2 separate regions of the Homo sapiens genome follow, and region 2 is linked to region 1. The links come from fine-mapping of genetic effects on gene expression. Tissue or cell type: whole blood. Region 1 holds a variant in brackets; the other region holds the start of a gene. All regions are shown on one strand. Distances are between the middles of the regions. Region 1 overlaps ZNF438 (zinc finger protein 438). Region 2 holds the start of ZNF438 (zinc finger protein 438).

Region 1 (11,143 bases):
TTAGGAGAAAAAAGAGGCAGAAATAATACTTAAAGAAATAATGAGGCTAGGCATGGCGGCTCACATCTGTACCTCCAGCATCTTGGGAGGCCGAGGTGGGAGGATTGCTTGAGCCCAGGAATTTGATACCAGCCTAGGAAACATGGTGAGACCCTGTCTCTATAAAAAATATTAAAAATTAACCAGGCAGGGTGAAACACACCTGTAGTTCCAGCTACTCAGGAGGCTGAGGTGGGAGGACTGCTTAAGCCTGCAGTGAGGTAGAGCCTGCAGTGAGCTGAGATCATGCCACTATACTCCAGCCTGGGTGAGAGAGTGAGACCCTATCTCAGAGAGAGGAAAAAAAAAAATGAATGAAAAAGAACAAAAAATAAATAAATAATGGTTGAAATCTTTCCAAATTTGATAAAAGAAAAAGAAATATGAATCTACACATCCCCCAAGGAGCTCAACAAATTCTAAATAGGATAAATACAAAGAGATATACTTCCAGACACATTACAGGCAAAATCTTGAGAGCCAAAGACAAGGAGAAAATCTTGAAAGCAGCAAGAGCAAAATGACCAGACAAGTACAAAGCAGCCCCCAATACGATTAACAGCTGACTTCTCATTAGAAACAAGGGAGGCCAGAAAGCAATGGAATTAAATATTCAAAGTACTAAAGTAAAATACTGTGAATTATGACTCTAATATCCAGCAATACTGTGTTTTTAAAATAAAGGTCAAATTAAGGCATCCCCAGAAAAATAAAGACAGAAAATTTGTTGCTAGAATATCTGTTTCACAAGAAATACTAAAGGAAATTCTTCAGGCTAAAAGCAAGTAACACCAAACAGTAATTGGAAGCCCCAAAAAACAAAGCATGCCAGTAAAGGAAATTACGTACATTATTGCAAAAGACACTGTAATTGCATATTTCTTCCCCTTTCTTCTCTTAACTGATTTAAAGAATAATTCAATAAAACACTGTAGCTATAATTTAATTATTGGGCTAACAACATTTACTGCTATACATTTAGACAATAACAGCACAAAAGAAGCAGGTGAGAACAAAGTTCTTCGGGAGTAAGAAAATGACCCCAGAGCTAACTCAAATATGCAGAAATATGTAAAGAAAATAAAAAATAGAGAGGTCAATACAACTAACTATAAATACGTACTTGCTCTCCCTTGTCTCAGCTTCTTCAAAAGACATAAAGTAAAAATTACAACAGTGTGTTGTTGGGTTTGACATAATAGGTACATCAATAATAGCAGAAAAAGTTGGGGAAGGAAATGGAGCTAACAGAGGAAGTCTATTTTGCTGAAAGTAAGTATAAATCAGAAGTGAAATTCTTATAAATCGGGATGTACACTGTAAACCCTGGAGCAACCACTAAGAAAATAACTCAAAATATATATTTTTAAAAGTAGCAAAGGAATTAAAGCATCACACTACAATATATCTACTTAATTCAAAAGAAGGCAAGAAAGGAAAGAACAAAAAAGACCTGAGACCTATAGAAAACAAAATTCGTAACTGCAGACAAAAATCCAACTATATCAGTAATCACATTAAATGTGAACAGATGAAGCAATCTAATCAAAAGAAAGATTATCAGGCTGTATTTTTATAAAAGAAAAAGAACAAAGATCCCAACTATATAAAATCTACAGAAGACACATTTTAGGTTCAATCATACAAATAGGTTGAAAGTAAAAGCTATACCATACAAACAGTAAACATAAAAGAATCAGGCAAAATACATTTTAAAGCAAGAATATAATACTAGAAATAAAGAGAAACACTTCATAATGACAGAAGGGTCAATCCATCAGGAAGGTATAACAATTAGAAGCATATATGCACTTAACAAGAGAAGGAAGAAAAGACAGTTGAAGGGATACACAATTGAAAAATAATAATTGGAGACTTCCCTCTTTCAATACTAGATAAAACCACCAGGAAGAAAATCAACAAGAATACAGAAGATTTGAACAACACTGTAAGACAGCCAGACCTACAGACAACTATATAACACTCCACTCAACAAGGCAATATGCATTATTAAGTGCACATGAAACATTTTCCAAAAGAGACCACATGCTAGGCCATAAACAACCTTCAATAATTTAAAGAGATTAATCACACAAAGAATGTTCTCTGAAACAATGGCATGCAATTAGAATACAAATCAGTAACAGAAGGAATTTTAGGAAATTCACAAAGATGGGAGGGAACCACACTCCTAAATAACCAATGGGTCAAAGAAATCAGAGAGAAAATTAGAAAATACCTTGAGATTAGTGAGAACTAAAACTCAACATACCAAAATTTATTGGATACAGCTAAAGAAAATAATACCCAGAAAGACATTTGTAGCTATAAATGCCTATATTAAAAAAGAAAGATCTCAAGTGGATAATCTAATCTTCCACCTTAAGACAGAACCTACAAAAAGAAAAGCAAACTAAACCTAAGCAAGCAGACGGAAGGAAATAATAAAGAATAATGTACAAACAAATGAAACAGAGAATGGAAAATCCAGAAAACAAAGACACTGGCAAAGGATTTGGGAATCAGGTGGTTATTGCTGTTGATAGAAAGGAAGGTTCTTATTAGGAGGAACAAAATCCAGATTGCAAGGAATTTAAGGAATAAATGGGAGGGGAAAAAAATGAAGGCAGCATATGCAGACTCTTCTTTCAATAAGCCTGAAGAAAAAGAATGAGAAGACTGAAAATGAACGCAAAAAGAAATTATTAACAAAGTCTTCTAAGAGGCAGAAAGGAATTAAAGCTCTAGGCAAATAAATTGGCCTTGGAAGATACGGCAGACACTAGTGGTTGCCTACCTAGTCTTCCCTTCTTTCTGAATAACAAAATCCTATTTTTTTTTTTTTTTTACCTTGGGAGGAGTGAAGGGCCATGAATCTTGACTAGTCTAAGCCAAACACAGGACTTCCGTACCCCTCACCACTGACTGGCTTAGAAACGGGTATAGGATGCAATTTTAGCTAATGAGGTCATGTTTTCTAGGAGGCTTCTAAGAAAGTTTTCTTCATTTTAAAAAAAGACATAAGAGAGACACCTTCTTTTCTTACAGTCATGGGTGCTTTGATATGAGTATGTCATTCTTGGAGTTAAAGCTGCCATCTTGAGATGAGGAGGGGAAAAGTCTGAAGACAAAAGCCAACTTATCAGGATGGTAGAATGAAAAGACAGAGCCAGAGAGTCTGATGATAAGAGTTAGCTGCTATATAAGCCAACAAAAAAACTATCTTTCTTCCAGATTTCTAGTTATATGAGACAATAAAATGCAGTTATTACATACGATACTTTCAGTTGGGTCTCTGTCACTTACCAGCTGAAAGCATTCTAACTGATATAGAAAGAAAGATACTTTCACAAGACAGATGTGGATGAAATTAACTTTGCATGTTGGAGATAAGGGAATTTGAGAGTTTCAGCCTAAAGTTTCATTTATTAAAGAAAATGAAACTCATATAGATCCATTTTACAAAGGGAGTGACCTTAACAGCTGCTGTTTCTTGCTTTAAAATATCAAGTATTGGCTGGGCGCAGTGGCTCATGCCTGTAATCCTAGCACTTTGGGAGGCCGAGGCGGGTGGATCATGAGGTCAGGAGTTTGAGACCATCCTGGCTAACACAGTGAAACCCCGTCTCTACTAAGAAAAATACAAAAAATTAGCCGGGCATGGTGGCGGGCCCCTGTAGTCCCAGCTACTCAGGAGGCTGAGGCAGGAGAATGGCGTGAACCCGAGAGGCGGAGCTTGCAGTGAGCCGAGATCACGCCCCTGCACTCCAGCCTGGGTGACAGAGAGAGACTGTCTCAAAAAAAAAAAAAAAAAAAAAAAAAAAAAAAAAAAAAAAAAAAAAAATCAAGTATTACTAATGATAACAATAGCTAGTAATGAAGACGATTATGATCATAAGCTCATGGTTATTAAAGTATTTTTAAAGCTAGGTATTTTATCCTTTATTGTTTACCTTCTGCATTCTATTTGACTTCAATAGTGAAAACACACCGATCTCTTTTACTTTCTGTTTATAACAATTTTCATGGCAGTTTCATTTTTCATACTTTCATGGTATATAACACAGTATACCATGATATAGTTTACAGAGGGAATCCTTAACTTTGAAGAACAAACACTTTGAAAACTAAACAATTTATAAAAAGATTTCTCTATTTCCATACACTTTCTGAATCTGGTCAAGAAAATAAAACAACATTTCAACTGCATCTGTGCAATGATAGCTTTGATTCATATCAGAAGACGGAAAATCAACACTGTAGCCACATAGATACATACCAGAGAAAGCACACTTTTAACAGAAATAACAAAAAACACTAGAATTGTGCTCTTATCCAAGCGGTTCCCAAATGGAAAAAAAAAAATCTGAAAGTTAAATTGTAAGACAGCTTTTGAAGCCCAAAACATTTTTCCTATAGAAACAACATTACTATGAGTCATGTCATTACTAGGCCAGTCCATAAAAGCCTTGTAAAACCATATGCATAAGACTGTTGTTTGAACTATACCAAAGTAGAATAACAGTTTTTCCTTGGGAAAATACATCATTTTCTCCCTCTTCTCTCTACTAAGTCCCAGAGGAGTGGGCCTCACCAGGGGCTCTGTTCACCTCTCGGAGCTCAGCAGTCATCTCCCTCACTCTGACACTCCATGGTGAGCCACACTGAACTTCTCCAACCTGCAGGGCCTCTCCACTCCAAGTCATTACTGTTATGACCTTCCCTTCTTCTTCTTGTAGGTCACCACCACTCAGCCTTCTGGTCTCAGCTTAATGCTACTTCCTCAGGAAGGCCATCCCTTGTCTCCACACTGAGTCATGTGTTCCTGATGTGTGTGCTCTCACATGACACTATACTTTCCTAACACAGCATTTGTCAATCTCCCCCATAAGCTCCACTGTTTCAGGGATTCATTTCATTTGCTATTAATGTTAAGGTCAGAAGACTGCCTGGCATTTTGACGATTCTTTACACATATTTATTTATATGAATGATTTCTCATAAGATACTTTAATCGTTTTTAACTTGATCTATGGTCATTACCAAGGAAAAGGGGGGGTTTCCAAAGAAGACTTCTCCTCCCCTCAATTTACACCTAGAGATTGTTCATAGGGAGGAAGCTACCTATCCAATTTCTTTCCCATTGCTGGTTTATAGTCACTTAAATGGACATTAAAATTTTAGCAAATAGGTATATTTTCTTTATTTGTCTTTTTAGAAGATGAGGCCTTTGAATGATGAAGGAATAGGTATATTTTCTAATATTAACTTTATCTCTTTTTTGTAGGTAATGTCACTCATTCTCATGACTTTTATGTCGGCAACGAAATGCTTATTCCCAAATTTGTGTCTCTATGCTTGATTTTTCTCTCAAGCTTAGAATCCAAACTTTCAGCTGTCTACAATTTTTATACCTGAATGTCCCACAAAAACTTCACCCCATCCCCCTGCCCAAGCTTTCTTTTCTCTGGTATTCCCCATTTCAGGTATTTCAGATAATGACATCACCATCTAGCCAGCGGAGTCTCACACCCACGTTATCTCGTCCTTGTTAATTATTCACTGGACCATGGCCTAACAGTGTTGGCATCACTTGGGAGCAGAATCTGAGGCCCCACTGCCAGACCTATTGAATCAAAATCTACCTTTTAACAAAATCCCTAGACAATTCACATGCACATTAAAATCTGAGAAACACTGATGTATAATTCCTTTTTCTCTCTACCCCCACAAAACTCTGATACCAAGTCTACATAGGCAAATATATTCCCTCCCATCCATTTCTGTTATCATGGCCCTGATTAAGCCATCACTTCCTGTGGTGATGTGGAACACTGCAATGGCTTCTTAGCTGACCTCATTCCTGTAGCCCACTGTTCACCCAGACTTTTAGAAGGGACACTCTGATGTACAGCTATGAGAGGGCATATGGTTGGCTGGCCAGAACTGTGCATAATGTAAAGCCTGTCCTATCTATGTTACAATTTAAAATCTGGGGATGCTCACAAAATTGTCACATAGAAAAGCATGCAAAAAAAAAAAAAACTTTTCTTGTGTTTCCTTGTTATAATCACTGATCTCAATTTTCTTTCCAAATACAAACCTAATCATGTCATATCCCTCTCCAAAATCTTTTAGTGGCTTCTGAAGACATCATGTATTTCTACACTTCTACCTTTCTGTTCATGCTTTTCCCCTTTTCTCCTATCCATCTTGCAAAAATCTTGCCCATCTTCTAAAGTCCTGTTCGAGAGTTATCTTACCAGAGAACAGTCATCTCATCTCACCAGCCCTCTTAAGAAATAACTGCTTCTCCATTCACTCTACAACCCATTGCACTCATTACAACACGATTACAACACTCATCTTGCTGTATGAAAGGCCCATGGATGTCTGTCTTTCCTGTCAGACAAGGACTTCCTTAAAG[G/A]AATTCTGTATTTCAGTCATTGGCAGATGGTAGATACTCAAAAAATGTTTTAAAAAAACAACTACCATTTATATTTGACATTATTAAAAGCTGTAGAACTCATCGCTGATAATGTGAATGTATTTACAAACTATAAAATACTAAGTACCATATCTTTCAAGTTATATGCACCCAGGCACAGTAAAAGCTCAAAAAATGCTTGGGGACCTAATTCAGTCACATAAATGCAGCTATCCTTAAAAGCCCACATTCTGGGGAGGCCCACCCTATTTCCTGAGAGTTCAATCAGATAATTGGACAGGACACAGAGAGGTTAATTCTGATGAGAAGAGAGGGAGGTCAAGTGTGCCAACTGATTTTAAAAATTATATATTGTATCATAAAGATTGTAATAAAGAAATAAAAGTTTGTTACCTATAACTTTAAAATATTTAAAAATTCATTTTCTGCATATTACCTTTCTAATGCAGTTGAAATTACACTAAACATATCATTCTGTATTTGGTTACAAAATTTTGCCATAAGTTACACTTATAATTGCACTTTAGTGATCATGTTATTCCATCACCCTAACATATTGTAGTTCATTAAAACATTCACCAAAATCCAATAATTTAGTTCAATAGTTATTGAATAATTACTTGTATACCAGACCCTGATGCAGGGCCTGACCAGTCCCAACCTCAAGAACTCCCCAGCCAAGTGGTAGGGACTGATTCATACACCCATGGCTGCAATACAGTGCCGAATGCAAATCAGAGTGCTCATTGGCAGGGCTGAGTAAGAAGGGATGCCCCCAGGATCTGAATGCTGCTCTCAAGAGATGGAAAGTCAACAGAAAGAAGAGGGGAAGGACTCATAAAGATGAGACGTAAGAATTTAAAATGGCACAGCATGTTCAGGGAAAGGCAGTGGCTGGGAGTAGCACAAGAAACACATAAGACTGAATGGGTCCATTTCCTTAAAGCCTCTCCAGAATTGTCAGTTATTTTAATTTTCAGTATTTTCGAAAGAATAGAAGAGATAACTCAAGGTTAACTTAAAAGGCATTTCTTTGATTACCAGTGACGGTAAACATAATCCCACCTTTTTATTAATCATTAACTGCTAAAATACTTTGTTTACTTATGTATTAAAACTTCTTCATTAAGTTCGAGAGAACTTCCTCTTCAGATATTATAGATATTCACCCTTAGTCACATTTGATACAAGCATTTCCTCCAGTGTGTTGTGTGATTTTTTTCATTGTAAATAAACCTTACATTTTATATGTTCAAAACTATTAGATCTTTTCCTTGGTGAGTTTTCCCTCTAATACTGAGTCATCAATCCTTCACAAATCTGAATATTGTTCTATTTTCTACTACTTTTCAAAAATACGATTAAAAAATATTTAGCTCTTGATACTAGCTAGACCTGATTTAAAAAACATGATGTGCATAAACATTCACATACAGGCCATTATCCTCCCTCTTCCAATCCTACTCCCACTCCCTTTGCTAAGATGGCTAGGGAATGCCCTTTCATCCAAACTCTTAATTCATTTTAATTCAGGTTCCCTTATATAACAATACGGAGAAGAGAGCAGCTAGAGCATGTGTCCTTTGCAGTGTCTTTAGAGATGGCCCTGAAATGGCTATGACCCCTACAAAAGAATTACAAAGTAGTATATTAAGGTACATAACATGGACAGAAAACATTTATGGGATGTATCAGCAATAAACATAGATGCTAATTTAAAGTACTAGTAGATACCTTCTAAGTCCCCAAACAAGTAATGCAGGTTTTCTTTAAGGGCCTGGAATGTATAGCCTTTTGACTAACTTCCTATTACAGAAGGCAGTTTTCAAATTAGCAAAGGGGGCTCAGTCCAGTGGTATACAGGTGAACACGTCTGACTCCCATGGGGAGTCTGGAAATGTGGGGAGGCATTTTTTAGATGTCACAATGAGAGAGCACACTATTGCAAGTCTTGAGATGTGTAGGGCAATCTTGTACAACAAAAACCTGTCCCATCCCAAATGCCGATAGCCACCTCACTTCAGCTAAGGGCCTTCCAGCCCAAGATGATGTGCTTCCTATATTTAATGAAGGAAACACTCCTGACTTCCAATTGTTCTATCTACCCTGCCACCCAGTACATGTTTTACCGTGGGAGGACCAGCCCTAAGTAAGATTGTGAGGTAGAACAGGTAGTATTGGATGTCTTGCTTACTCTTCCCGTTGGGTCCCTTGTTTTAAAACCCTGTTCTGGCCTGAATCCCTTCAAGTAACATCCCAGGAAGTTCTGGCTTGGAGGAACCCAGGAACTTGGCTACTGTCTTCTCATTCTGACCCACCAAAACCTGTTCCCTGCAAGTTCTTAGAAAACATCTGAAAAACAAAGCATACTCTGATACTAACCTCATGAAGGTACAAGTGCATTCTTCTCAGGGCTATTTGTGTTTAAGCACTAAACTAAAGATGCCACTCCTTATCATATGCCCTACTACCATCCTTATACAAGCTACTACCATTTTTCACTGTGATTACCACAGTAGCCTCTTAACTGGTCTTCCTGCTTTCAGTCTTCCAAGTCATAGTCTATGCTCAAGAAAGAGCTGATCTACGTGAGATCATGTCATTTCTTGGCCCAAAACTCTCTGGTGGCTCCCTAGTTTACTCCAAATAAAAGCCTCCAATGGCTTTTATTGGTACCTCCAATGCAAGATCATAAATAATCTAAAATCTGAAAATCTGGGGGGAGAGCATATATGGAAGAAAAAACAAGAGTCCATTTTGGTCACATTAAATTTGCAATGCCTAGGAGACATTCAAGTGGAGATGTCAGAAAGGTGTTATCCCCAGATCCTCAGAAGAGAACTTCAGGCTACATAAGTACTTCTCAATGGGGGGTGATTTTATGCACCCAGGAGACATCTGGCAATATCTGGAGACATTTTGATTGTCACAATAAGGGTAGAGGGAACTCTATTGGCAGTTAGAGCATAGAGGCCAGAGATGCTGCTAAGCATCCTACAATCCACAAGACATCCCCTGACACTGAAAAAATTTTCCAGCCCAAAATGTCAATAGTGCTGAAGATGACAAACTCTGGGCTAGAGATAATAAGACTTACACAAAAAGATTATATTTAACCAAAAGTACAAGATGAAAAACAAGAGAACTAAACCTTTCCTCTTTTAGATGTCAGGTAACACAGAAGACAGAAAATGGTCAACTAGAATGGGAGAAGGAAAACCAGGGAAGGGTTTGTCTCAAAGGCCAAGAGACAAGTGTTTCCAAAAGGAAGCAATGGTCAATTGTGGTCAACTGCATGGAAAACTGCTAAGACATCAAATAACACTGATAGGGGGTTAAAAGGTTTGAGAAGAATGAAGGCAGTATGCTGTGAGGAGTGAGGGAGTGAGATAATAGACACGTCGGAAGACTGCTGGACAATTTTAAGGCTGCTGAGCGTATCATTAAAGTGAAAAAACTGGCAGGTAGTTGAGCTCATCCAGTTCTGAGATTGGAGAGACCAAAGAGGTACAAAGGAATTGAAAGAATTTGCCGGAAAATAATTTGAATCAAAGCATCTAGGCTGGATAAGGAAGGAACTGGTAACAGAAAGGAAGTGATAAGTAGAAATGTGGGGGAGGGGGCTGGAAGTCATGATGAGTCATAAATACTTTTCCCACATCAATAAATAAACTTCCTATATGCTTTTAACTGTTTCATAATAACATAGCCTATTTCTTGATATTATTAAGCAAATGTGATTATTACTTTAATAAGTTACCAGAGATAACAAGTGTTGGTGATGGTGTGAAAAAGAGAAACCTCATACACTGTTGGTGGGAATGCAGATCAGTGCGGCCACTGTGAAAAACCATACAGAGGTTCCTAAGGAAATTAAAAATACAACTACCATATGACTCAGCAATTCCTCCAGTGGGTAGATATCCAAAGGAAATGAAATCACCATCTCATAAAGATACTTGCACTCCCATGTTCACTGTAGCATGAGCCAAGATTTAGAAACAATAATAGCCAAGATATTGAAACAACCAAAGTGTCTGTCAACAGATGAATGAACTGTGAGTTATGTGTGTGTACATATGTGTGTGTGTATATATATATGTACATGCACGTACGTAAATGGAATATTATTCAGCTTTAAAAAGGAGATCCTGCCATTTGCTACCACATGGATGAATGTGGAAGACATTATGCAGAGTGAAATAGGCAAGACACAGAAAATGCATGATTTCACTTATATGTGGAATCTTAAAAAAAGAAAAGAAAAAGAAAGTTGAATACTTAGAGAACAAAATGATGGTAAACAGGGGTGGACGGGGGAGAAAATGTGAAGATGTAGGTCAAAGGATACAAAGCTGCAGATACGCAGGATAAAGGGGTCTCGATGTCTAATGTATGACATGAGGACTATGGTTAATACTGTACTGTATTTGAGATTTTTGCTAAAAGAGATTTTCCTGCCACTAAAAAGAGTAACTATGTGAGATGACTGATGTTAATTTGCTTGACTGTAGTATCCACTTCACTGTGTGTATACATCAAAACATCATATACGTTAAATATATACAATAAAAAAATAGGTATTTACTATTTGAACAATGCTCATCATCCTATTTACTTTTCCTAAGTAGGATCAAATGGTATTTGTGGGAAAGA
Region 2 (11,143 bases), 31 kb after region 1:
TTTGCTTACTATTCCCTAAGAATTTTCTTCTGGGTGTTCTTTTGGGGTTAAAACTTGGTTAACCTGTCACTAAAGCTTAGTCTCCACCTAGACTTACTAATTATTAGCCATTAGTGTAATGTGTTAAAATCAAACCTAAAGATTTTAATTTTTAAGCAACCAAATGTGAAATGAAGCAAAAATAAGTGCTACTTATATAAATTATTTAAATATATTCAAACATTTAGAGTGTAAAGTACACAAACAAGCATCCAGCTACTACTACAAATATATATGAGTTGAAGATAATAATGCAAAAATAAAAGTGATTGCAAGAAGTAGAATTTTGACAAAAACAAGAAATGGGGAAAGGATTCCCTATTTAATAAACGGTGCTGGGAAAACTGGCTAGCCATATTGAGAAAGCTGAAACTGGATTCCTTCCTTACACTTTATACCAAAATTAATTCAAGATGGATTAAAGACTTACATGTTAGACCTAAAACCATAAAAACCCTGGAAGAAAACCTAGGCAATACCATTCAGGACATAGGCATGGGCAAGGACTTCATGTCTAAAACACCAAAAGCAATGGCAACAAAAGCCAAAACTGACAAATGGGATCTAATTAAACTAAAGAGCTTCTGCACAGCAAAAGAAACTACCATAAAGAGTGAACAGGCAACCTACAGAATGGGAGAAAATTTTTGCAATCTACCCATCTGACAAAGGGCTAATATCCACAATCTACAAAGAACTTAAACAAATTTACAAGAAAAAATCAAACAACCCCATCAACAAGTGTGCAAAGGATATGAACAGACACTTCTCAAAAGAAGACATTTATGCAGCCAACAGACACATGAAAAAATGCTCATCATCACTGGCCATCAGAGAAATGCAAATCAAAACCACAATGAGATACCATTTCACACCAGTTAGATTGGCGATCATTAAAAAGTCAGGAAACAACAGGTGCTGGAGAGGATGTGGAGAAATAGGAACACTTTTACATTGTTGGTGGGACTGTAAACTAGTTCAAACACTGTGGAAGACAGTGTGGCGATTCCTCAAGGATCTAGAACTAGAAATACCATTTGGCCCAGCCATCCCATGACTGGGTATATACCCAAAGGACTATAAATCATGCTGCCATAAAGAGACATGCACACGTATGTTTATTGTGGCACTATTCACAATAGCAAAGACTTGGAACCAACCCAAATGTCCATCAATGATAGACTGGATTAAGAAAATGTGGCACATATACACCATGGAATACTATGCAGCCATAAAAAAAGGATGAGTTCATGTCCTTTGTAGAGACATGGATGAAGCTGGAAACCATCATTCTGAGCAAACTTTCACAAGGACAGAAAACCACACACCACATGTTCTCACTCACAGGTGGGAATTGAACAATGAGAACACTTGGACACAGGGTGGGGACCATCACATACCAGTGCCTGTCGTGGGGTCGGGGGAGGGGGAAGGGATAGCATTAGGAGACATACCTAATGTAAATGACGAGTTAATGGGTGCAGCACACCAACATGGGACATGTATACATATGTAACAAACCTGCATGTTGTGCTCATGTACCCTAGAACTTAAAGTATAATTTAAAAAATAAATTTAATTAAAAAAAGAATTATATTTAAATGCTCAGTATGTACTATCACTGGGCTAGACACACTGTTTTCAACAATAAATCTTCATATATATAAAAGTACTCATAAAATAGTTTAAAATTTGCTTGTGCAAATGTAAATTTTAAAAGGAATCTGAATTTTATTTACTATCTAGGATGTTATATTTCGCATGGTCAGTGTTAGAAACAGAGGGTCCTGTTGTTTTCAGATAGAACTTACCATCACTCCCCCTCTGCTGGGAGCTACCTGACACAATTAAATAACCATCAACCTGCCCTCACTGTGCCTGAACTTAAAAGTCAATAACACCTGAGCATCAATAGGCTATTGACTATGCAATTTTACTTTATACCATATATGGGTATCTGATGTTCCTGGGAAACTAACTGCAAATGTGGTGTAAATAAAGACTAATCATTTCAACTCCATTAAATGTAGGGAAGCTACAAGAGCAGATTTAAAACGTTGTGAACTGCAAAATGAGATGGCACCCCTCTACATTTACGTTAGTAGAGGGCTTCTGTTTAGAGTAATCATAGATCTGGTTATTTAGATACTTTCCCAATGAAAGCTTAAAACAAAATATAATTTTATATATTTTTAAAAATTCTGAAATTAACCATAAAATCTACGGCAGTGCAATTTTATATAATTCTTACATGGTTTAAATTTGAAATACTCATGTTAGGAAGTAACAAAATTGTGACAACTGTTGAGGTTATGGTATGCCATGAAAGATCTACGGGAACAAGACACATCTTTTTTTGTTTGTATTTTTCTAGTCTCCATGTTCTACAATGATCCAGCTATACGAGATGTAATCTGCAATTCCACCTACAATATATATCACCAGATCCCCTTTCTATGACAAAAAAAAAATACATGTCAATGTTAGAGATGGTCAGCAAAGAAACTCAAACTTATTCCAATAGGTGGAACTTTGGCATGACACACTTAAACCGGTGGAAACCTGCCTGAATACTTCACCCAACCCCTCCATCACCCTCTATTATGCAAGCTGCAACATTTCAAGCCAACTCCCTTATTTCTCTGGTGAGCCCTGTCAACACTGAGGTAATAGAACTGGAAAAACTCATCACTTCAAAAGGACAGTCAAATATCAGAATTTATTTCATTTGGTAAAAATTCTATCATTGCCAAATAAAGCTAATGCAAATATAGTAAAATATGCATGATTTTGAGTAATTCTTTTGTTGAAAAGGACTCTTGGGGAGCCTCAACTTCATCCTGCAACAGCTTAGGCATTCTTTTGCCCCTTTGCCCTTTTCATGCCCCATCTCACAAGTCATGGAAGCTGGGGAGGGGAGGGTGCAGAAAACCCAAATGAACTAATCGGCATGTATTTATGCATTTAGTCTACTCTAATTTTATTCCCACAGGTTTTTCCTCATACCCTGCTCCTCTAAGGTAAAGAACTGTTTTATTCATCTCTGAACTTCCAAAACCTAACCAAATGCCCATTATATAAAGTCATCCCTAACATCTACTACACAGCAGGCACTGGATTAGGGACTAGAGATAGAGAAGTCAAAGAGACAGACCTTGCCCCTACGGAACCTACAGTGGGGAATACCAGATACTGGCTGCATGAACCCAGTCAGGTCGTAATCAAAGACCAGTTAGCACAGTCCCACTGCCTATAATCTTTCTCCCACAGACAACCAAAGCTTAGATGAAAAACAAAAGCATGCTTTCTCTTCAGAAAAATAAATGGGTATCTCCAACCCTGACCACTCCCCTGAGTTCCATATTCACAGGCATGCATACTCAACATGTTCACTCGGAGGTGGTTACAGGGATTCAATGCATGGACTCCAAAGCCACAATGCTTAGGTTTGAATCCTAGCTACATCACTCACCAGCTGGGTGACTTCAGACAAGTCACTTATAACCTCTTTTTGCCTCTATTTTCTCGTGCTGTAAAATGGGGACAATAATGGTTCCTTGCACATATAATTCTTATGATGATTAAATGAATTAATATAGGTTAAAGTACTTAAAACCCTGCCTGGGACTCAGTTTACGCTTACATAATACTATTTTTACTAGCACTGTTGTTATGACTATGTCTAACAGGCATTTAGAACTTGTGCAAAACTAAATTTGTAATTTTCCTCAGTAAACAGCACCACTATACTTCTAGTTGTTCCAGCCTAAACCTAAAAAATCATCACTTCTCCCTTTTCTTCAAATTCCACATCAGCTCGTTTCCCGTCAGCTCTACCTTCAAAACGTATCACCAATTCTACCGCCTACCATCATCTCCACAACTAACCTCCCCCAGCCCAAACCACCATCATTTCACCTGCAGGGCACAGCAGCTTTCTCCCGATTTTCACTCCATCCGACCCACTCTAATCTACAGTTAATTCTCCATACAATAAAACTTAAATCAGACACCAGTCCCTTGATGCAAACCTTCCAATGGTTTTCCATCACAGTTAGAACAACATCTTTACTTCACCACAGCCTACAAGGGACCCCACGGCCTGCCTGGCCCTTGACCATCATTGGCCACTACTTTCCCCGTTCCCGGCTGTGCTCTAAACACTCTCACTGTGTCTGGACCACCTCAGAGCATTGTCCTGTGCTGTTCCTGCTGTGAGGCCGAAAATACAGTCACCTGGAGCCTGGACTCTGAAGTCAGACTGCCCACGTTCAAATAGTCTCTACCACGTTTTAGCTGTGCAACTTTGGCAAATTCTTAACCTTTCTGTGTGTCAGTTGCCTCATCTATGAAAGGGAGATACTAGGTTACATCAAAAGACTTGTAAAAATTTAATTTAGTGTTCAGAATAGTGCCTTACATATGGTAAGCTCTACTTTTTTTAAGTGTTCATTGCTATTAATTATTCCTCTCTGAAATGTTCTTACCTCAGGCTCTTTCCCTCACACTTCAAGTGTCCCTGCCTTTGAATGGCTTTTCCTGACAGATCCCACCAAAAACAACCTTCCCTGTTCCCCCACTGTCCTCCTTTCTTCCTTCCCTTCACTGCACTTATGACTACCTGAAATTACATTATGCACGTATTGTTCGTTGTCTATTTCCCACTGCAATATGAGCCCTGCTAGGTTGGAGGCTGTCTTCTTTGCTGCTCTATTTCCAGAGATTTCTGACTCACATCTCATCCAGGCTAGGGGACCAATGCGAATCTCCTAATAACAATAGCACACTTAGCCTTTCATTTGCACTCTCGTGATCTCATTTGATCCTGGAAAAACCAACAAACAGATAAACCATCGGCTCTCATTTTAGATAAGAAAAACAAAGTTCCAAGTTTGCGTGACTTGTCCTTGGACACGAAGCTAGTTAACGAATAGAACAAAAATTAGAAGCCCTGCTTTCTGATTCAAAGGCTCTTCCTACCTGGATGAAAAGATATCACACTCCTGAAATGAATTTACAGAAATGTGAACTCTCGAGCTCCTGTATAAATACACCCTGAAGTGTGCACAGTATTCTTCCCTTCAAAGTTCCTGAAGACTACTAGTCCCGGAGTTTGAGAGGCATTATAGTCTAGTAATAACTAATCGATAATGTAGTACCCCTTGACCAAAATATTCAAGCAGTCAGATACGATGATTGGATATTCCAAATCGATACAGCAATCCTTAAAACTCAGTGAGTCTGTGTTGTCTATAATGTGCTAGTTCCAGCACACTGAAAGCTTCCTCTGCAAAACCCAGACAACGGGGGCATTGTAATTGCCAAGAGTACCGTGCTAACGATACCTGTTATTTCTTGGGATCCCCATTCTATCAAGTTTAGTGACAACAGTTCGATCACCCAACAGGCTCCAGTGTGGTATAGAATCAGATGGAGGGAAGGTTGTCGGGGGGAGGCAAAACAGTGAAAAAGTTCCCCTTCTACAAGATTCCTGGTCAAATAGCCAGTGGCTACCACATTCCTCAGAATAACCAAGTGTCTGTGTATAAGCTTTCTCCTAGCAAATTTACACACTTGTGTTATCTCACGTGTTCCTAGTGCTGTGGGAACAACCATTAGGGAGGCCAGAGGCTGCTGTACCTCCCTTTTACACAAAAAAGAAAACTGAGGCAGCAACTGGTTATCTTATAAATGTGTCCACGATGACTTGGTCACTTGTGGGATCCCAACGGCCAGGACATAGGATTCCTATTCTCTGAGAGGAAGCTTCCATCCCCTACTTAACATGTCAAACTCCAAGGCTGAGAGGGGGAAGAAAAGGAATCTAAGTCCCTTTATCACGGAAGAAAAAAAGGGACTCTCCATTTGGACTTTCCGCCCCTTCTAAGGCCTCGCTCCCAGGCTCGGAGACGCGCCCCGCCCCAGGGGAAAAGGTGCTGGCCCGGCCCCACGGGGCGCGGCCTCGCCTCCCGCACCCCAGGTCCCTACCGCCCAGCAGGGCGCGCTGCCACTCTGAGCAGACACCTGTCCCTTCGCCACAATCGGCGACTCCCCAAGGAACTGACGCCCCCAGAGCCACCACCACCGCCGGGACTGCCAGCTGCCAGCGGGCCCCGCAAGCCCTAGGAGCTGCAGGAATCCTCGTAAACTTACAGTTTTCCTACAGCGTGCGCGTCACAGCGGGGTGACGTCACGGGCCCAGCAGTCGGGGAGGTCAAGCCACGGGGCGCGGGCCGCTGGGCCCCCAGGCTCCGCCCTCGCCCCGCCCCGGCGCCGCGGCGGGAGACACGCCCCCGAGCTCCACGCCCTCGAGCTCCACGCACCTCCCCGTAGCAGACACCCCGCGCAGGCGCAGACGGCCTCTGCGCCCGCATGCCTGTGGGCTTCGCCGACCGGGGCGCCTGCGGCGGCGACTGCTCTACCAAAGCCTCACTCAAAGCCTGAAGTCGGGGTTAGAGGAGGAGGAGGGGCCGACAAAAGGGGACGGAGACCTTCAGAAATACTGTAAACAAGCTGTCGCCCTGGGGGCTGGAGTAAGACGCCTGGGTTGTGAGGTAGTTTTTCCACAGACATTGCCCGCCTTCCTCACGTGTTCGTTAAAAGTTCTCCACGTGTGGAAACAGCCATTTGCTCTCCATCAGGTGCTGGCGGGTCCTCAGCCCTGAAAAGACAGCTCTCCCAGGGTCCCTCGCTCCTCCCCGGCTCGACGCGGCTCCCGCTAGACTCCGCCCAGACCCCGAGCAGTCCCCGCCCATCTCTTGACTATGCCCCTCCCACGCCCACTTAGGCCTTGCCCCTGGGTCCCGCCCTTCCGGCTCCCGCCCCTGGCTCCCGGCTCCCGCGGGCCCCCACCTGCCCTTCTTGCCCTGGCGCCGCCTCCAGCCCAGCCCGTTTCTTGCAGATTTTAGCTTCTCCCTTGCCTGCCGCCTTTCCCGTTTCGGCTCGGTGAAGCTACCTATGGGTTGCTGTTCATTTAACAAACGGTGATCCGGATAAACATGTTCACTTCTTCGCCTGGGCAAACTTTCCAGCCCCCGACCCACTCATGTCACGATACCTTCCCGTGTCCAAGTCCGGCTCTCTGCTCCCCACTTTTTTTTTTTTTTTTTTTTGAGACAGAGTGTTTCTCTGTCTCCCAGGCTGGAGTGCAGTGGCGCGATCTCAACTCACAGTACCCCCTGCCTCCCGGGTTCAAACGATTTTCTTGCCTCAGCCTCCTGAGTAGCTGGGATTACAGGCGCGCGCCACCACAGCCGGCTAATTTTTATGTTTTAGTAGAGACAGGGTTTCACCATGTTGGCCAGGATGGTCTCCATCTCTTGACCTCGTGATCCGCCCGCCTCGGCCTCTCAAGGTGCTGGGATTACAGGTGTGAGCCGCCGCGCCCGGCCTCTTTGCTCTTTTATACTCTCAGAAGCAATGAGTTCTGGTTAAAAAAAAGGGCTCGATAGACGGAAAAAATGAAGGCTTAAAGAACTGACAACAAAATATTAACATTTGGCTTGTGGAATTCTTACACTCTCGTAAGCAGAAAAAACAAATGTTATGGCAAAAAAGTGTCTCAGACAAATCCGTCTTGGGGGGAAAAAAATTAAAAGAATGAGAAAAACAGACTTCGGAATAAATAGACCCAAAGGAGGAAGTATTGAAAATGGCAAGATTCACTTTTACAAACTTATTTGGAACCACGGCAGATGGCCAGGGCAGGGATTTTGCAAGGCAGCTCCAGTTGTAAGTAAAACCTGAAACAATGGTTTATTTCCACTCTCATTGAAAGTGCTGTCTTATTTTTACAGGAAAGAGTGATGATGGGAATATTAGGCTTTAATTCGAGATCTGAGCTGGTTAAAAATAAAAACGTTTATTATTCCAGAAAAATCTACGTCAGTGTTTTTAAATGTTCTGATTTGAAAAAATATTTGTATATTTTATCTGAATATTAGTTATTATCAAATGATGTAAAAGAAATTTGTAAAGGCTGTACCATAATTGTAACAATAAGGTTTTTCTGTAGAGCAGAGGTATAGAAAAATTAACATTTTTTAAAGTCCTGCATATTTTTAAAACAGTGATATTTATGTTTTTCCTTGCAAAACAATTTTAAGAAACCTTTAAATTGTTAATAGTTTACATGCTTATAAAATGTTTTATATATATCATTTCTAAAAATCGTAATTTTTTTAAGTGAGTTTCTAGGTATACCTTATGGGAGTGTTTCACAGGTACATGTCATCTGTTATTTTTTGGAGTGGAAATGGGTAAGAAGCATACACCAAATGTATCAAATGTTTTTACTATAGATACTTTTGCCTCTGAAAGATGGCATTGTAGAATATAGTCTTCTCATCGTATTGTTCAGTATACTTTCTCTTGAAATCTCAGGTATTCAAAAAAAAAAGTCGTTGTTTTGCTAGATGCAGGAAAAAAGTAAACGCAGTGAACAAAAGATGGCCAACAGTAAAGGTACCCAAGCAAGGATCACAGTCTCAAGGAATGTCAAGTAGAAATTTGTGGGAAAATACCACTCACGTTCAGTCAACTTTCTGTAACAAACTGGAATTTGACCTAGACAGGAAGTGAGAAGCTAGGGCCAAAAGTGTTGTTATTAAAGAGAGGATCTGCTTTTTTAAAGAAAATAAAACCCTGGACCTTGGAGGTTTAGCACTGGAAGCACTGAGGCCCTCCACTATGGCCCTTGGGCTTTCAGTTCCCCCTTGTGATTCTTTCTCTTTGATATCTGCTGCCCATAGCAATCTGGCTTCCAGAGCCCTCTATGTCAATACACACATCTCTTCCCTTGGTCCTGCTTAGCAAGCTAAGAAAAGCTGAATTAAGACAAAACAGAGTACTTAATGTATGGGGAAAATAAAAGTGAAAGAAATATAATTCCTAATATTTCCTGAGTATTGATTCTGTGCCAAGCATTGCATTATTTCCTTGAATTCTTGCAACTAGATAAGAACTGTTACTATCCCCATTTTAAACACAAGGTAAGTAGGTTAAGTGCCCATGTCACACAGCTGCTGAGTAACACAGTCAAGATTCCAGACTTCATACTTCAGAACCCACAGCCATAACCACTAATCTGTCTCAAGTTTCATACAACCAGGCACAAATTATGCAAGAAACAGAGGGACTTAGGAAGTCCAAAATATGGACTTAGCTCTAAAATACTGACCACAGTGTATGGGTATCTTCTTCACTGTTTTCCATCCCATCTTTGCATGACTGCTTTTATTTGATTTTTTAAGGTGGTCATCATGACCCAGTAAGTTGATTTTGTGATCGGTTAAAGGGTAGCTACTCAGAAAAACACTAATCAGAATCCAAAATACAAAATATCAGATTGTATCACATGTAATAAGGGTATTTTTTTCCCAACACAAATTAGGGGAAACTTTCAGCCACATGTGTGTATTCTGGGTTGCAACGTTAAATGTATTTCATACTATGGATTTCAATCAAAAAAAATTTGAAAAACACTATTATAACCACGCCTTGCCTAACTAACATGCATCATTTATCCTTCAGGATCAAGACCAAGGGAAACAAAATCCCATTCTGCAATCCCCTTACATTCCTCTCTTAAGTCCCAGGATCTGGTTTGATGATCTCTTCCCAGGTAATTGACATAAAAATCAGGTCACTCCTGATTAGAGATAGGCCCTTGTCTCCAACTCAAACCCAAGAATATACTAATAACAACAAAATAACCATCTATAAAACAAGAGTTACACAGGTTAAAAGGGGGCTTATTCTGCCAAAGGAGCAGAGATAGAGACTTTGCTGGAAGAAGACCTGGGACAGAGATTGGAGAGCTCTGGAGGGATGTCTGTTTAATAACAGTCTTACAAGTCTGCAGTTACACAGTTTGCACAGTATTTCATCTCATTTTATCACCTCCCTTCCCTCATCATTTTACTTAGCTAATTCTCCCCAATCCTTTAGGTCTCTACTTTGCAGGAACTGACTCTGAGAAGCCTTCCCTAAGCAGCTTTGGCTCTCTGCATTGCAAATTATTTTAATTGCTTCTTCTCCTAGACTGTAAGCTCTGTGAGAATAGGGGAAATGTGAGTCTTAACCTCGAATCCTCTACATGTAGTATCCCAAATAGATTATCAGTTAATATGTGTAGAGGAATGCGTGGTGAATGGATGGATGAACTCGAATTCAAAGACTGGGTAGCTTTCTTACTCAAGATGCTAGTTATTTTCTAAAAAGGGGATACTGTCAATAGAAATAATTCTGATGAGAAAATTCCTTTAGGAGACAAGTCATTTTGAATGGCAATGCAGCATAACATAGTAAAGCACTGAACAGGGCCAGCTCTGTTATTAACTGGGTACTTTATGGCAAGTCCAGTAACTTCTGCAAGCCTCAAATGGGGTTAGACTTACTAAATATTACTTATTTATTTTTGAGACAGGCTCTTGCCCAGGCTGGAGTACAATGGAAAGACCATAGCTCACTATAACCTTGAACTCCTAGGCTCAAGGGATTCTCCCACCTCAACCTCCTGAGTAGCTGGGACTGCAGGCATGCACAACCACATCTGGTTATTTTTACTTTTCATAGAGATGACATCTGGCTGTGTTTCCCAGACTGGTCTCGAACTCCTAGCCTCAAGCAATCCTCTCGCCTGGGCCTCCCAGAGTGCTGGGATTACAGGCATGAGTCACTGCTCTGGGCCTCACTAAATGTTATCCTTGATGAATGTCCTAACAGGATGTTATCCCTCTGGTAACTCGGAAATCAGAGCAGGCCACCTGGAGCCTTATTTACATGAGGTCTCCTGAAAGACACTGACAGCCACTGGGGGATAGCAATTAATTCTCTTAAACAAAGGATGTTAGACAAAGGCTGTCCCCAACAAGAAGGGGTGGAGGGAAGCGAGGAGGGAAATGGAAAGACAAGGAACCTGTGTCCTTGTTCTGAGAAGCCCAGTTCTTGATTTGAGTACAGGGCCTGGAGCATGCTTCTGACTGTAAAACGGAAAGAACCAAACTGTCCTTGTGCGTGTATTGGGATTGGAGAACAGGGAAGAAGGTACAGGAGAAAAGATACCAAAAAGATTTCTGGCCAGGCACGGTGATCATGCCTGTAA

The links. PIP is the estimated chance that this variant, and not a neighbour inherited with it, causes the effect.
Region 2: it holds the start of ZNF438, and the variant in region 1 is fine-mapped to the expression of ZNF438 in whole blood (TOPMed, PIP above 0.99). The same link has a PIP of 0.9 or more in blood mononuclear cells.

What each region holds. Positions count from the first base shown.
Region 1 is chr10:30,994,705-31,005,847 of GRCh38, forward strand. The region is part of intron 1 of ZNF438 (zinc finger protein 438); the gene reads right to left. Among named protein-coding and RNA genes, the nearest start is that of ZNF438, 32 kb to the right of the region's middle. The variant G/A (reference allele first, on the strand shown) is at 6,467.
Region 2 is chr10:31,025,641-31,036,783 of GRCh38, forward strand. It overlaps ZNF438 (zinc finger protein 438), which reads right to left and starts at 6,225. Exons shown (of 7, transcript NM_001143768.2): 1 at 6,193-6,225. LOC105376481 (a long non-coding RNA gene) reads left to right here and starts at 6,868. Exons shown (of 3, transcript XR_001747410.3): 1 at 6,868-9,661. RefSeq lists a silencer at 5,887-6,446.